Linked DNA regions of Homo sapiens: region 2 is linked to region 1. The links come from fine-mapping of genetic effects on plasma protein levels. A gene starts in region 1. The other region holds a variant in brackets. All regions are shown on one strand. Distances are from middle to middle.

Region 1 (5,000 bases):
ACAAGGACACACATGAATCAATGTAGATGCCTCAATATAAATCACTCATTAGCAACACATACAATCGAGCAACTCCTGAGACAAAATGCCTGGATGAAAATCATAACACCAGTTTTTTTTTAATATAATTTTTCTTCTACAGTGTTCCATGCATAGTCGTTTTACTCAGCCTGTGAGATGATAAAACAACCAAATGCAAAGAGGAGAAAATGATCTTGGGGCATAACATACACACACACACACACGCTTAAACTCTAACAAACAAAATAATTTGTGTGGAATCTGGCTTCTCATCTGTAAGGCCAAGAAAATCAATGCCACCTCATAGTCCTTGTCACACAAGTGTCTGTTGTTAGCCTTATGCTTCCCCCCAAATCTGCCTATGCCTGTGCTACCTGGGCCACCCTCCCCACTTATCCCAGATGCCAGGTCCCTAGAGTCCTTTCAACTTGGCTCAGTATTTGCCTTCTCAAGGAAGCTCTCCAACTGCAACAGCCCCAAATGGCACATGCCTATGTCCAAGCCCGTCTCCATCACTCTGCAGGTGTTTCCATCACTCCTGGACTAGCTCCCACTCTCTGGTGAGGTCCCTGAAGGCAGGGACCCTGCCTTTTCTTTTTTTTCTTTTTTTTTTTTGAGATAGAGTCTCACTCTGTCGCCCAGGCTGGAGTGCAGTGGCACAATCTCTGCTCACTGCAACCTCTGCCTCCCAGGTTCAAGGGATTCTCCTGCCTCAGCCTCCCGAGTAGCTGGGATTACAGATGCATGCCACCATGCCTGGCTAATTTTCTGTATTTTTAGTAGAGACGGGGTTTCACCATGTTAGCCAGGATGGTCTCGATCTCCTGACCTCATGATCCGCCCACCTCAGCCTCCCAAGTGCTGGGATTTAGACCCTGCCTTTTCAATCCACATTCCTAGGCCTTAGCCTTAGTTCTCAGCCTTTGGATGTATATTTGTGCAGGGAGAGGGAAAACACTGTCCCCAGAACCTGCACAAACCCAATTCCCCAAATTTACCCCTCCTAGCCCATCCAAGGCCCTGAGGTTGAGAGGTGTGCTCCCAATAGCAGCACTGTGTATGACACAAAATCAGTATTTGCAAAGGGTCTTGAGAATGAAGCAAGGGAAGTCAGTGAAATGAATACAATAATCTTGGATCTCTGTATCTGGCTGCAATTGACACCTCATTAATTTGTCTGATAACTGCGATGCAAGGTGCTGGGCATTTTAACTTCCCAAGGCTGGGCAGAAAAAAGACAAAGGCTCTGGAATCAGAAAAACTGTAGGTGTGGATCTGGGATCTACTACTTAGTAGCTGGATACTCTTGGGTAAATGACGGAATTCCTCCTCCCTTTTATTAAAGCATAATAATAGTTCCTATTTCATGTGGCCCTTAGGAGGATTAAGTGAAAATAAGATATCTAAAAATTTTCTACAGTGTCAGGCACACAGTAAGCACTTAAAAAATGACAACTATTGTTATCATTTATTTCAGTCGTTCTCACCTCTCCAGAAAATAATTGGGGATGTCTTAATTTCTAAAACTATACTTTCAGAGAAAGACAGGATGCTGTCTCATCAATTATTCACACGTATTCACACACACACTATCTCTCTCTCTCTCTTAATTGATCTTGTTTTGAGAATCCCTCCCCGGATGGTGGTCTTCCCTTCCTCTGGGGGGTGGGGAGGGGATGCGGGTGGCAGCGGAGCCCACCCTTACCTTCAGAGAGGCGTCCCCGAGGCTGGGGCGGGGGCGGCAGCTCCTCCTTCACGCCAGGTCGCGACTGCGGAGGCCAAGTTCAGAAAGTAGGTGAGAAGCAGCGATCTCCGCCTCCTGACTACCGTGGAAAGTGAAAGAGAGGTGTGATTAAAGAGATAAGGCACCCAGAGAGGGCTACAAAAAAAAAAAAAAAGAAGAAGAAGGAAAAAAAGTAGGAACAGAAAGAAGAATGTCAGGCGTCTGGCAGCTCCTGGCTGCTAACCCCGGCCGGTGGAGGCTGCAGGTGGGCACTGCCCGCGGTCGGGCGAAGCTCCGGGTCCGGGAGTGTAGCGGTCTGGGGCGCTCTCAGTCTGGGGCGCTCCCTGGCGTAGAATCCTCCCTGACTCGGAGGTCCCGGTCTGGGGACCCTCCGGTCCGGGTGCTCCTCGCAGCCGTGCTCCAGGACCGGCTCCTCCACCCAGACGCCCCGCGTGGAGTTACCGGAGCTACTGGATCGCGGGGTCCAAAGGTTGCTGCTGGAAAACCCAGCGCCTTGCCCTTTTCCCGCGGACGGCGTGGGCCCCAGGCGTCTGGCGCTTCCTGCCCAGCCGCGCGGCGCGGGTCCCGGGAAAACCCGGGCTGTAGCCGGGTGACCTGCGGGGCCGGAAGGGGGCGCGCCCGGGCCGCTCGCAAGCACCCTGCAGGCCGCGGTTCACAGCAGAGGATGCCAGGAGGGAGGACCGCTGGCCGCAGCGGCCGCCCGGCTCTTCAGAGGAAGAGGAGGGGAGGGCTGAGGGTGGAAGAGGGGTCCCCGGGGGATGCCGAAGGTGAGAGGGGCTCCGCGTCTCAAGTACACAAATGCGCCCCAGGCTTTTTGCTTTCCCAGAAGGATGGGAGTTCACTATAGGGAAGTAATAGAGAGGGGTGCAATTGTTGAAGTTTTAATTTTTTTTAAGGAGGCCAAAGGGGAATGTGTGTTTCTAGATTTTTATTTTGTGGCAGAACTGTTATTTAACCAAAGGAAAAGGGAAACCCATAGCCGACAGGCAAAATGTTCAATTGGACAATGATTTTAATTCTTTTTACCCAATTTAGATAATTCACCACATAATAAATAAAAATATGTAATTATCTCAATAAATGCAAATAAAAGCATCTGGCAAAATTCAACACCCTTTCTGAATTAATAACGATCAGAAAACCGAGAGTAGAAATGATCTTTCTTAATCTGATAAAGAACATCTATAAGAAACCTACAGGTGACCTCATAATAGTGAAACATTTTACTTTTTCCTAAGATTAGTAATGAGATAAGGATTTTGGCTCCCACCTGGGACAACTGCTTTGCAACAAGTGAAGAAATAAAAATAAAATTAGAAAGCATAAAGATTGAGAAGAAAGAATTAAAACTACTGGTTTTAACAGAGAGCATAATTATATGTAGACCAACTTTTGAAATCTACAAAAAAAAAAACTACTGGAAATATTAAGTTTATCAAGATCATGGAATATAAAAATCAATAGCAATTCTATATATTAGAGATGGAAACTTGAAAAGTGAAGTTTGTTAAAAATGCCATTTACCATAGCATTTAAAAATCAAAATACCAAAGTATAAATTCATTGGATAATATATGAGATATCTCCTGTGAAAACTACAAAATATTGCTAACAGAGATGAAACATCTAAGTAATAAAGGGATATACCACGTTTACGGATTGGAAGACTTAAGACATCTATTCTCCACACTGTATATTTTTAGACTCTATATATTACAGAATCTATATATTTAATACAATTCAATCCAAATCCCAGGAAAATTTTTCAAAGAAATTAAGAAGCTGTTTCTAAAATTCATATGAAAATGCAAATAATCTAGGATTGTCCGGACAGAGACGGAGTTTTGCTCTTCTTGCCCAGGCTGGAGTGAGTGCAATGACGCGATCTCGGCTCACTGCAACCTCCGCCTCCCGGGTTCAAGCGATTCTCCTGCCTCAGCCGCCCGAGTAGCTGGGATTACAGGCATGCACTATCACGCCTGGCTACTTTTGTATTTTTAGTAGAGACAGGGTTTCTCCGTGTTGGTCAGGCTGGTTTTGAACTCTCGACCTCAGGTGATCCACCCATTTCAGCCTCCCAAAGTGTTGAAATTACAGGGGTGAGCCACCTGCCCGGCCTGTCTGGGCAATCTTGACAAAGATGAACAAAGTTGAGAGACTTATACTGACTTGAGGATTTATAATAAGGCAATAGTAATTATGGCAATGTGATATTCACAGAAACATACAAACATACAAAATAGAAAGTAGACTAATAGATCCACACATATCTAGTCAATTGATTTTTTTAACAAAGCACCATGTCAATTCAGTGGGGAAAAAACAGTCTTTCACAAACATTGCTGGAACAGCTGGGTACCTCTACAGAAGAAGCAGCAGCAGAAAAAAGAACTTTGTCCTTGCCTTGTTCTATATACAAGTATCAATTCACAATAGACCATGGACCTAAACATAAAAGCTAGAACCGTAAATATTTCATAAAAATACAGAGAAGACCCTTGAACAGGCAAAAAATAAATAAATAAATCATGCTCTTGGACAGGCAAAAAAAAAAAATTCTTAGCTAGGACACAAAAAAAAATAGCCATTTGGGACACATTGATTAATTGGACATCACCAAAATTAAAAATGTCTACTAAACAAAGACATCACTTAAAAATGAATAGATAACCCTGGAAATATTCTCACTTTACATCTATCTGGCAAAGAACTTGCATCCACAATACATAAATAATTCCTACACATCAACAATATAAAAAGAAATACAATTTAAATAAGGCAAAATATTTTGCCTTCACTAAAAAATATATACGAATGGCCAATGAAAACATGAAAAGGGCTCATCATCATGAGTCGGGGAACTTCAAGTTAAGACCATGGTGATCTTCATCTAACACCTGTGAAAATTGTTAAAATATAAAGAAACTTGACAACACCAATTATTGGTGAGGCAATGAAGCAGCAGAGCTCTCATACACAACTGGTGGGAATGTAAAGTAGTACAATTAGTTTGCGAAACAATGTATAAGTTTCTCTGAAAGTTAAATATGCACCTACCCTATGACCACTCTTAAGTGTCAAAATAAAATCATAAGTCCACAAGTATGTTCATAGGAGACTCTGTCTCAAATACATATATATAATATTATATATATAAAATATTCTATATAAAATATATATTATATTATATATAATATTCTATATAAAATATATATTATATTATATATAATATTCT
Region 2 (5,000 bases), 29 kb before region 1:
GAAAGTGGCCATCTTTGAAATGTCTCTCAGTAGCAATGAGCTAAGTTTCAAAACTTCCAAAAATAAATCTTTCTCACCTTTTCTCACCAAGATGAAGCTTTTGGTGTCTGTGCCTCCCGTGCTGGCCACAGTGCAATTATATAAAACATTTAGATTGCTTTCACCAATATTTTCAATTCTCAATACTTTTGAAGCATGCCATTTGCCTTCTGGAGTCCTGTAAGAGGGCAAAATAATTTAGCAGTAGGCTCTGTTCGTTACCCTTGAGAGGGGAATTCACATGTTTAAAATGCTTGAAGGCAGCTGTGATGTTGCCTGCATTATTTCTTCCCTTTCTGGCCAGTACTCTTAAAGCATGGACTACAATAAACGTCCCCTCCTCCGTGGAGCATCAGAACTGACAGAAACAGCCCTCCTGAGGCCATTTGGGAATGGTGCTGTCAATTACCTGAAGTTTAAATGGCTGGAAGATCATGATGCTAAGTTGAAAATATAAGAAAATATTCTCTCTCAATTATTTTTCTCTACTTCTCTCTTCCTAACAACTTGGGGTTCTTTCCACAGAGTGGTTCCCACTAATTATGACAAGGCTGTAAGTTGTTTAGCATAGATGCAGATTCGTATTACATTTGTCCATGGAATCCAACAAACTGGTTTAATGTGTTCAGCATTAAAAAACATAACACTGTTCTCAAGCACCCCGAGGCACATGAGAAGTGCCAGTTAAGTTGTTCCATGAGTGTCAGAAAATGACTTGAGAAAGCCACTGGCAGCACGTTCTTTTTCTCTTCCTTAAAGGATTCAAGTTGTCCTGTGGTTGATGCCAGGTAAACACTTATGACATCCACTTCCCCCACCAATGACAGGCTCTGATAGCTACACCAGTCAACACAGCCAGACATGGGCCCCATGTGCCCACATTCCTAGCAACAGGGATATCTAGGACCCGGGACACAGAGCCCCACTGTAGCCTCCAACTGCCTCAAGTACATTTTGGAATGTAATTCTTTTCCTAAGTCACCCATCCAGAAATAACAACCATCTAAAACCAATGAAATCCAGAAGTAAAACACAGGAGGCCATTGAGAGGACAAAACAGATGATATCAAAGGTGTGTGCACCCAACTATAAAGAAAGACCTCTCTGCTTTTGTAGCTTAAGCTGCATTTCTAAGAAATTCACTGTGGTTTTCTACCCCTCTAAAAATTAGAAAGAGATTATCCAAAGGGAGAAATACAAAACTCAAATGGAGGCCAGTGGCTGAGGATGAGATATGATGGCAGGAGATCCACAAATTTCAAATGAATTCAACATGTAGTGGGCATGAACCACATGCCTGCTCCCGGGCAAGAAGCCAGACTTTGTGGTGTAAAGAGCTTGTAGACAAGTGTCAGCAAGAATGTAGAGCTGCAAGCATGGTAACAAAGAAGGTACCAAAAAATGTGTAAAAAGCAGAAGAAAAAACTCAACAAGTGCAGCAAAGGTGGTAGACAACTTAGGCTCAGCACTCACTAGACCCTGAGTAGTGTATCAGTATAATAATGAATACTTACAGTATGACCCAAAGTCATTCAGAAAAGCTTAGGTGACTATATGTTTAGACTGATTCTTTTTATAAGTTTGACCATTCCTTAATGGAAGAATATAGGCTTATTTAACTATCAATATGCATGCCATTTGGAGCCTTTTTGGCCCATTAGAAAAATAAACAACTTAACAAATTTTTCAAAATAAAAAAAAGCTTGGCCTAGGCAACTGCCCTTTTCTAAGAAGCTAAGTAAAATCCCCATCCCCATCGGATCCTGACTGACCAAGTGCTACTTTATAAGGTGATGCTAAATACCCTCAATGGCCTTCTCATGGACCTTCTTTTCCAGCTTAGATCTTGGCAATACATTTCTGCATAATGCGTCCACCTAGGGTATGGCCACTATAATTA[T/C]AAAATATGTCCATTATAATTATAATTTAAACTAGCCCAAAATACACATCAGCCACCCAGTGTTTTTAATATGATGTTATATATAATATATATGATTGTTATATGGTATATATCATGACATATATATTACACATACATACATAATTCTCATTTCTTTCTCTTCATGTATATTAGGATCCGATCCATTTTCTTCCCCGAACATCCAATAAATTACATCCTCTTCATTCAGCAAAGCAGAGCAGTTGAGCCTTACGTTTTTTCCTGGTAAAAGTTGGCAACTAAAGTTCTGATTTTTGAAACTCAGGTTTCTTAAAAGTTTCAAAACAATATAATCAATGTATGTTAACCTAAAGCAAAACGTGGTGCTCCATCCCAGAAAGAGAATAAATATGCCTTGCTTTAAATAAAACAAAATATATAAAGCAGAAGAAATAGGTAGCAATTACAAGTCATCATCAAAACATGATTTGGCTTCTTTTTAAACATTTATTTTTTAATCAACTATTAAAACTTAGAGTGATCAGTGTACTTTCTTTTCGTAGCATCAGGACAATACTCTCACTGAGACTTCTAGATAAACCAAATGGATAAATCACAAAAAAATTAAATTAAGCAAACATTAAAGACATCAAAGTACAGAGAAAATAAAGAGAAATTTTTGAACTACAAGCGTACTTAAGAAGGATCCTTTCTAGGGTGAGCTAAGATAGGTGGCCATTTCATTCCATGGAAGAATTTGCTTTGGTTTGTAATTAACAGAAAGAGTCTCATAGAAACAAGAAAATCCAGTGAAGCTCTCGGCAGCTGCACAGGCTTGCAGAATTACTGCTAAGCGCTCGGACAGCGTAAAAGGATGTAAAGGCTGTATGATATCACTTGCAGTCTCATGGTAATCAGGAGAGCAAGTCTCATTAGAGAAGAGGCCTGCATCAAACACATGACTGCAGCACCCCCTCCCTCACCAGCTATCAGAGATGAAGACAGATTGGAGTGAACATACCTACATCCCAGCCACCCCAACTCAATTCTGAGTCAACTGAGATACTCAACTCTCAGGCTACCTACTTGTAAGAAAAAATAACACAAACTGTATTCACTTTAATTGTTTGATACATAAAGATCAACAACAATAAAAAGTTAAGAGACATACAAAGACACAGAAAATGTGCACCATAATCAATAGAAAAGACAGCTAATAGAAGCAGACCTACAGATGCTGAATTTAGCAGATTAAAAACTGTAACTGTTTGAAAGAAAATAGAGGAAAAGATAAACAAGTGGATGGAAATATGGTCATTTTCAACAAAGTGTAATTTATTTTAAAAAGAATAAATTGAATATTTGTATATCATGCATATATGATATAGCAACTGTAACAGTAATTTTAAATATACAGATGGACTAAACACCATACTGACCATATTTCAAAAAAGACCCAAATACATGCAGTTTATGAGAGACACTTATGTATAGAACAAAAAAAAATGTTAGTAGTAAAGGGATGTTTAAAAAAAGACAAATATGCCAATTCCAAGCAAAAGAAAACTTGTGTGATTATTTCATATGACAGAGCTACACATTGAGAGAGGAAGTGTTATGATAGATAAAGAGAGATATTTCATAATGATAAAAGTGTTAATTCAACGAGCATAAATCCGTGTATGCATATAAGATAGCTCCAAACTATGTAAGACAAAAATTGACAGAACTAAAGGAGATAGAGACACATTGACCATAATAGCTGGAGATATTCACATCTCTTTCAGCAACACATGGAACAAGCAGATAAAAGATTAGTCAGGATATAAATTTTTTGAACAACACCATTAATGAACTTAACCAAATAGACATTTAAAGAATAATAAAACAAAAACCTATAGAATATACCTTTGTTTCAAATGCACTTGGAACATTCAGCAAGATATACCATACTGTGGGCCTTAAGTAAGTCACTACAAATTCCAAAAGGTTGAAATGACACTGTGTATAATCTTGGACTATAATGAATCTAAACTGGACATGAATAAGAGACAAGAACTAGAAAGTTCACCAAATATTTGGAAATTAAGAAATACCAATTTTTTTTGTTGGAAAAAGAAATCATAAGGGAAATTTTAAGTAATGGTTTAAACTGAATAGAATGAAAATATGAGAAACAGCTAAAGTAGTGTTTACAGGGAAACTTGGAGTTTGAAGGTATATACTACCAGAGGATAATTAAAATTAATTATCTAACTCTTCAGGTCAACAAACTAGAACAAAAGATACAAGTTAAGCCCCACTGAGTAGAAGAAAAAAATAAGAAAGACAAAGACAGAAATAAATAAAAATATAAAGCAGGTAAACCTCATGTACAAATGGCATAGGACCCAGCTGCACTGGGCCCATGTGGTCATATAAACCACTGTGACCCCAACTGTGGTTATAAGGTGGGGACTTTGGAAGCAAAGTCCCCAAACAGAGACTTGCCACTTTTTAGTGATTTAACTTTAGACAAGTTACTTAGCCTTTTTGCACTTCAATTATTTAATTCATAAAATGAGAATACATGCCTCAGTGTTGCTTGGAGGATTTAATTCAACAATATATTTCAATGACCTAGCATGATACCTGGCTTAGCATATTTAGCATATGTGAATTTCTTCCTTTCTTTCTTTCCTTTCTCTTTTGAAAGAAATTACTCAATTGGACATGTTGATTCATAAGACTTATCTAGACAAACTCCAAATATACAATCAATTCAGTCAATTGATTCAAAGTGAATCAATTAATCAAACATTCACACCACAAAATTAGTTTGACTCATCTCTCCAGAGTGCTCTCACGGAATTTTTAAATTTATTATTGTTATTATTATTATTATTTTTGAGATAGAGTCTTGCTCCGTTGCCCAGGCTGGAGTGCAGTGGTGTGATTTCAGCTCATTACAACCTTGCCTCCTGGGTTCAAGAGATTCTCCTGCCTCAGTCTCCTGAGTAGCTGGGACTACAGGTGCATGCCACCATGCCTGGCTAATTTTTGTATTTTTAGTAGAGATGGGGTTTCACCGTGCTGGTCAGGT

Evidence for each region. PIP is the chance, under the fine-mapping model, that this variant and not a neighbour inherited with it causes the effect. The UK Biobank Pharma Proteomics Project read protein levels with antibody pairs (Olink). The fine-mapping took linkage between variants from a reference panel, not from the people measured, so its PIPs are less certain.
Region 2: its variant is fine-mapped to the plasma level of the IL18R1 protein (UK Biobank, PIP above 0.99).

What each region holds. Positions count from the first base shown.
Region 1 is chr2:102,353,127-102,358,126 of GRCh38, reverse strand. It overlaps IL18R1 (interleukin 18 receptor 1), which reads right to left and starts at 2,331. Exons shown (of 11, transcript NM_003855.5): 1 at 1,727-2,331. RefSeq lists silencers at 2,277-2,336, 2,357-2,466 and an enhancer at 2,061-2,562.
Region 2 is chr2:102,382,078-102,387,077 of GRCh38, reverse strand. It overlaps IL18R1 (interleukin 18 receptor 1), which reads right to left. Exons shown (of 11, transcript NM_003855.5): 7 at 2,080-2,200; 8 at 78-217. Among named protein-coding and RNA genes, the nearest start is that of IL18R1, 29 kb to the right of the region's middle. The variant T/C (reference allele first, on the strand shown) is at 1,940.